2 linked regions of the Homo sapiens genome follow. The protein of the gene in region 1 purifies or fractionates together with the protein of each later gene. This does not show direct contact. Each region holds a gene or a part of one and is shown in the gene's direction. Other genes may lie near its edges. The genes, in order: PPP1R14C and UBL7.

Region 1 (3,816 bases):
TGTGTAAACACAGAGCAGCCCGGCACAGCGTGGTTATAGCACGGCTGTCCAGACTATTCTTAGACTGTGCTTGCTTACAGGAATTATTTTGGATTGTCATTACAATGAAAACATGAGATGTAAATGTTTTCATAGACAGCTCACATAGTCCCAAGGATTCAGTTCTTTTTATACGCTTCCTATGCCAGTTTGCTCCCATAGGCCTATAGAAAGATGAGCTATAAGAAATTGTGGCTATTGTTCAGATGAGTGTTTGAACAGGCCATAATAAGCTGACATTTGCCACTCCCCACCCCTGCCACCCCACGTTTCTCCATCAGCTGCCACAATTTGCACAGGAGTTTAATCCCGTGTTACGTTGCCATCCCTATTTTGAAATGGAGACGGATGAGAGCTGTTAGCCACAGTCATTTCCAGGAAGCTGCCAAGCTATGTCTCCTAGAGCTTGGAGACCATGATCCATCTTCAGGTGAGGTTTTAGCTTGAACATTCCTGCCTGCTCCCTTCACTGCTGTGGGCAGGGGTGAACGTTTATATTTTTTAAAAGCTAATGTGACATCAGACAGGGCTGACAGTGTAAACTTTCTGGCTAGTTAGAAGTGTGTGTATATATCTGTGTGTTTATTTGTGTATGTGTGTATGTGTGCATGTGAGTGTATGAGTGGTGTGGAATGGGTGTATTCATGTGTGTGTATGTTTGTGTATGTGTTTGTGTGTGTGGATGTGAGTGTATGAATGGTGTGGAGTGTGTGTATTCATCTGTGTGTATGTTTGTGTATATATTTGTGTGTGTGTATGCATGTGAGTGGTGTGGAGTGTGTGTATTCATGTTTGTGTATTCATCCATGTGTGTATTCACATGGAGTGTATGTTTGTGTATGTATTTGTGTGTGTGTGTGTGCATGTGAGCGTATGAGTAGTGTGGAGTGTGTGTATTCGTGTGTGTATGTTTGTATATATATTTGTGTGTGCATGCATGTGAGTGAGTAGTGTGGAGTGTTTATATTCATGTGTGTGTATGTTTGTGTATATATTTGTGTGTGTGTGTGTGTGGATGTGAGTGTATGAATGGTGTGGAGTGTATTCATCTGTGTGTATGTGTATATGTTTGTGTATGTGTGTGTGCATGTGTGTGTATGAGTGGTGTGGATTGTGTGTATTCATGTGTGTGTATGTCTGTGTATATATTTGTGTATGTTTGTGTATATATTTGTGTGTGTGTGTGTGTTGTCACTGCGGGCCAGCTGTGTTTCAGGACCCTGCTTTGCTTGCATTTCTGCATCCTGGTACCTGAGCCTGTTCTGAGCTTCATCCGTGGCATGCCCAGCGCCAGGTTCTGCAGCGCTTCCCAGTGCAGTGGCAATGCGGAGTCCCACTGCTGCTTGCAAGTTGGGGCAAGGGGGCTGGTGATGGCCAAGCCTACACTGTGTGTTGGTTTGTGAGGTGTCTTCAGAGCCCCGGTGTGCTCCCGTCATTACTGTCCTTCTCCAAAACCTCTCAGCCTCAGAACCTGGATCTTATCTTTACCTTTTCTTTCCCCCGATCCCTCATCCAGTTCATCTCCAAACTCCATCTGTTTATTCCTCCCTATTATCACTATTTTAAAATCTTATTTTTGCCAGGATCATCTTCAAGCCCTGTTGCTTCGCACCTGATACATGACATTCCCACAGCCTCCTGCCTCCTCCCTGTTATCCCGGGCTCCGCAGTGGGGCCATCTCTTCCTTCTGTCATTCCCCTGTCTTGTTCTGGAGCCATGGAGCCTTCAGTGTGACAGTCTCTGCAGGACAAGGGGAACCGGCAGCCTATGGGCCAATGGGTTTTGTTTATCCTACACAATATTTTAAGAAGTTGACGGACAGCTTTAAAAATTGGAATTTTTTTACATTAAAAAACTCTATTTTCAGTTATTCCTGAAAACGTAGAAAATCCAGCAGCACTGAGCACATATTCCTAGAAGGTGACAGGAGGTGGGAATGGCGTGTTCCCTGCTGCTTTCCCTCAGGCCATGTTTTCTCCAGTTTGCTGCACTCCTCACTCTACTGTATAGCCCCTCAGCCTGCTCCATTTCTGTCACCTGTCTGGCCCCCATCGACGTGCATATTTGCAGCCCAGAGCTGACTGGCTTCCTGGCCAAGGACCTTTCTACACCCACATTTAGAATTCATCTTGTCTCTTTGCCTCCTGCTACCATTTTGCCTCTTGGGAGTGCTCTCCCTTCCCTCTAAACCTGTTCAAATCCTGTCATTCCGCAAGGTCAGTTCACCTCCTCCCTCCTGTGTGCAACTTCCCTGCCTGCCCCTGGCGGAGTTTTCTCTCTCCCTGAATCACTAAAGCGCTTCAGGTTTGTCTGTGGCTTTGGGGCCATTGCATGTCATTGTGTTTGTCAGAGCTGTGTTTAGACAGCCCGTCCCCCAGTGCCAGGGCCTCACTGTGGCTGACACACAGTGCCTTGCACTCTGCGGACTCTGGGTTCTCAACAAATGTACGACAAGAAAGATGTGTAGAGGTGATCCAGGGCCTCGTGCTATGGGTACCAACAGGAGGGCCTCTCACTAATGTGGGGCAGGGAGTAGCTGATAACTTTCCCCAGCAGCTGTGAAGACAGTTGTTTCACTTTTTGTCACCAGAGCCACTGTTTAGGGACACACCTTTAATGTGGGAAAATGCCCAAACACAACTAAGCTCTGGGACGTCATGGTGGGCCATGGGCATGTTCCCTCCTTTGTAAGTGATTTGATCTATCACTAAGGTCATTCAGTGATACTGCTCTAAGATCAGCATACAGAAGATAAAGTTAAATAGGACTTCAATCAAATTTAGAATATTTCCATACTTCTCATTAAGAATATTAAGTACCAATTTACAGGATTCTCTACTTGGTACTAGGTGCTGTCTTTGCTTCCCAGGACTCTCCCTCAAGAGCCTCTGGGTCTCTATGTTCTTCTCACCTGGGTTTTGTTTCAGCTTCACTGACATTCAGAACACCCGGGACGCATGCTGAGCTGGGAGCGGGATGCCTTTCTCTTCCTATGCCTCTGATAAATCAGGGTGGGATTTCTGAGAAGCAGCATAGGTTGGTAAAAAGCGCAGATGCCTAATGGCTGTTAACGATGACTCAATCACTTGAGGTTTTTTCCCCAACCCTTGAGATCTGGGCTTTGTTTGCATCAGCTTTCTGGCTGGTAAAACCAAGCTCAGGGTTTCTCATCACATGCCCTTGGGTAGTAGGAGTGACCTTGAGATGCCTGGCATTTTTTTCTTTACTCCTGTCAAGCCCCTTTGAGAGGGGAAGGGGCTTTGCTTCCCAACTTCTGGGCCAGAGGGCGAGTGTACTCTGGGGTAGCACTGTCCAATAGAGCTTTCTGCTACAATGCAAGTGCTCTCCATCTGTGCTTTCCAGCACAGTAGCCACTTGCCTCGTGTAGCTATTGAGCACTTGAGATGTGGTCATTGCGACTGAGGAACTGAGTTGTATTTCATTTTAATGTATTCAAATGTGCTTACCACATATGCTTACCATATGGGACAGCCCAGATCTCAGGGGTTGGGGAAAATGGGTCAGTGCAATACCTAACAGAGAGCCGTGCACAGTCCTAAGGGGAAGATGCCTAACTGAAGATGCCTACTGTGTAGGGCGAGGCTCTACACTGCTATGCAAGTCAAAGCCTGTTTGGCCTAACTTGGCTGGCGTCAAAACTATTTGAATTATATTTGCAGAAAAACCCATTGCTGTGCTGTTCTGCGGAGGGCATTAGTTACTAATTGTTCTCTCATTTCCTTTAAAAATAGCAGACACCAAGCTCCCTTAGCTGT
Region 2 (3,816 bases), on another chromosome or scaffold:
CAGCCTCCCAAAATGCTGGGATTACAGGCATGAGCCACCGCTCCTGGCCAACATTGTGAATTCTTTTTCTGAAAGAACAGAAGTTTGGGATGAGTTAGGAAAGGAGAAGTTGGTCAGGGGAGGCTCCTCAGTATATTTGAGGTAGGTCTTCAGGGATGATTAGAAGGATTTTTGCTTGGTTGACTGAGTAAAGGAAAGGCAGTAAAAAAGAAAAAGTGGCGTGGGCAGTCCAGGTGGAGGAGGGAGGAATTTAAATATAATTAAATTACACTGAAAAGGTAATTTTTAATAGCTAAAGGATCCAACTGGCAAGAAAGATGTTTTCAGTCATACCTGGATTGGGTTCATCCTATTTTGTTGTTTTTCCATTGATTTAAATTGGGCAGCCTCCACAATGTTAAACTCCAGAGTTTTTCTGTGGATAGATTCTGTGTGAATCCTTTTTTTTTTTTTTTTTTTTTGAGACGGAGTCTTGCTCTGTTGCCCAGGCTGGAGTGCAGTGGCGAGATCTCAGCTCATTGTAACCTCTGTCTCCCAGGTTCAGGCAATTTTCCTGCCTCAGCCTCCTGAATAACTGGGATTACAGGCCCGCACAACCACAACTGGCTAATTTTTGTGTGTATGTGTGTATATATATATATATTTCTTTTTTTTTGAGACAGAGTCTTGCTCTGTTGCCCAGGCTGGAGTGCAGTGGTGTGATCTTGGCTCACTGCAACCTCCGCCTCCTGGGTTCAAGCAATTCTCCTGCTTCAGCCTCCTGAGTAGCAGGGATTACAGGCGTCTGCCACCATGCCTGGCTAATTTTTGTATTTTTGGTAGAGACGAGGTTTACCATCTTGGCCAGGCTGGCCTTGAACTCCTGACCTCAGGTGATCCACCCACCTCGGCCTCCCAAAGTGTTGGGATTACAGGTGTGAGCCACCGTGCCCGGCCCTAATTTTCGCCATGGCCCAGGTTTCGCCATGTCGGCCAGGCTCCAAAAGTGCTGGGTTTATAGGTGTGAGCCACCACATCTGGCCAGATTCGATGTAAGTCCATTTTATGAGTTTATATTTGCAAATAGTTGTTGAAATGTATTTAATTGGCTAGGCATGGTGGTTCACGCCTGTCATCCCAGCACTTTGTGAGGCTAAGGCAGGAGGATCCCTTGAGCCCAGGAGTTAAGAGACTAGTCTAGGCAACATGGCAAAACCCCGTCTCTACAAAAAACTACAAAAATTAGCTGGGTGTGGTGGCATGTGCCTGTAGTCCCAGCTACTCAGGAGGCTAAGGTGGGAGAATTGCTTGACCCCAGGAGGTTGAGGCTGCAGTGAACCGTGATGGTGCCATTGCACTCAAGCCTGGGCAACAGAGTAAGACCCTGTTTTCCAAAAAAAAAAAAGTATTTGTTAAGTTATTGAATAAGAGTATCTTTTAAAACATGTATCATTCTCCAGCTATCTAATCAAAATAAGGTTCTCGGGACAAAAACCATGTAAATTTGTTTTGAGGAGCAAAATATAAGTGGACAGTTCTTTTTTTAGATCTGATCTACTGTGGTCGGAAGCTAAAAGATGACCAGACACTTGACTTCTATGGCATTCAACCTGGGTCCACTGTCCATGTTCTGCGAAAGTCCTGGCCTGAACCTGATCAGAAACCGGGTGAGTGAGGGGCAGCCCTTAGGCAGGCAGAGTTTCTGTAATATCCGCAAGGGAAGGATCTGTGTGTTCTTGAGGCACAAGCCTGGGTGGAACAAAGGGATGATTTACTGAGCTGATGATAAATGATATCTTTATTACTTATTGGATTAGACCATGCTGATAAACAGAGTCCAATTTTGACCTTCTTACTGCCGGCATCACTAATGGAAGATTTGTTTCTCCATTTTGTTTTTTGTTTTTTGGTTTTTTTGAGACAGTCTCACTCTGTTGCCCAGGCTGGAGTGCAGTGGCACAATCTTGATCTTGGATCACTGCAACCTCCGCCTCCCAGGTTCAAGTGATTCTCATGCCTCAGCCTCCCGAGTAGCTGGGATTACAGGCATGAGTCACCATGCCCAGCTAATTTTTTTTTTTTTTTTTTTTCTGAGACGGAGTCTCACTCTGTCTCACAGGCTGGAGTGCAGTGGTGTGATCTTGGCTCACTGCAAGCTCCGCCTCCCGGGTTCACACCATTCTCCTGCCTCAGCCTCCCAGGTAGCTGGGACTACAGGCGCCCACCACCAAGCCTGGCTAATTTTTTTTGTGTTTTTTAGTAGAGACGGGGTTTCACCGTGTTAGCCAGGATGGTCTCGATCTCCTGACCTTGTGATCTGCCCGCCTCGGCCTCCCAAAGTGCTGGGATTAAAGGCGTGAGCCACTGTACCCGGCCTTCAATTTTTGTATTTTTAGTAGAGACGGGGTGTCTCCATGTTGGTCAACCTGGTCTCGAACTCCTGACCTCAAGCCATCCACCCCACCTCAGCCTCCCAAAGTACAGGCACCATTCCTGGCTTGTTTCTCCACTTTCTAAGTTTGTCATCCACTGTTTCCTAATGGGACAGGGAGTTTGTGTCTACTTAAACTCCTTTAAGTTAACAGTTTATTTTTTAGTGATACAAAGTAAACTTTGTATCCTTTTGTTATTATCGTTGTTCTCATTAGAAAAAAGCTGGAAACTTTTGGCACTTTCCTAATGCTGCAGTTTATTCCCTTGTTAACAAATCTTCCTACAAACTGCCTCAGGTGGTGATTTGTTCAGTTAGCTAACTGCTCTTGCTATACTGGTATTTTCCTGAAGATATTCAAAGAGTATTTAAATAGCTCTTGGAGAAAATATACAAAGCCTCAGATGCCTTTTTGGTTTATAAATAGAAGGTGCTTGGAATTCATGATTTAAATTTTGCATGTGTGTTTTAAAAGCCTCCCTAAGAATAAAGCTAAGCTGTGTAAAAGAGATTAGCTTTGTTACACTGGCAGGTTGACATCTTTTTATAATGTTCATGATTGCTGTGACTAGTTATCAGTTTGAAATTTACCCCCCTTTCAGTTCTAACTGTAAAAGACAAAAATGTCTTTCATACCCTGATGGGAAGTGAGAAAGAGGAACAGAGTTCCTGACATCCAGAGGTTGGCCTGGCACTCACAGCCAGGCCCTGGAATCCTTTTGGGGATCATGAACAATTGTACAGATCCCCAGTAGCAGTCAAGGCCACTCTGAGACCACTATGGATTAAGACAAAAACAAGATCCCTATTATTGCTGAACAGAAACACAAAAACATGAGCATTATCCAAACCACAAAGGTGACCAAGTATCTTTCTATCTTGGCTGATGAGAGTAACAGCTGCTTCTTGGCCAATTACAGCTTCCACCTTGCTCTAGTTTTCCTTCCTTCTAGGTAAGAGTTATTAAGATACTCAATTATAAAATCACTCCCACTGCCTGAAAGCATCCTATCCAGAGTAAAACCTCACTTCTTTAAATTTTTCCCCAAATCAGCCAGACAAAACCAAAATCCTGTAAGAAGTCCTTTCTGGCCGGGTGCAGCAGCTTACGCCTGTAATCCCAGAACTTTGGGAGGCCGAGGTGGGCGGATCACCTGAGATTGGGAGTTCGAGACAAGCCTGACCAACATGGAGAAACCCCGTCTATACTAAAAATACAAAATTAGCCAGGCATGGTGGTGCCTGCTTGTAATCCCAGCTACTTGAGAGGCTGACGCAGGAGAATCGGTTGAACCCAAGAGGCAGAGGTTGCAATGAGCCGAGATCACGCCATTGTATTCCAGCCTGGGCAACAAGAGCGAAACTCTGTCTCAAAAAAAAAAAAGTCCTTTCTAATATCCTCTTAC

The links.
Region 2: the proteins of PPP1R14C (region 1) and UBL7 fractionate together in Homo sapiens (co-fractionation; one large-scale study listed by BioGRID). This does not show direct contact.

What each region holds. Positions count from the first base shown.
Region 1 is NC_000006.12:150,208,807-150,212,622, forward strand, and holds part of PPP1R14C (protein phosphatase 1 regulatory subunit 14C), read left to right. Parts: intron 1-3,816. UniProt on the Homo sapiens protein: Inhibitor of the PP1 regulatory subunit PPP1CA.
Region 2 is NC_000015.10:74,454,382-74,458,197, reverse strand, and holds part of UBL7 (ubiquitin-like protein 7), read left to right. Parts: intron 1-1,526; coding exon 1,527-1,646; intron 1,647-3,816.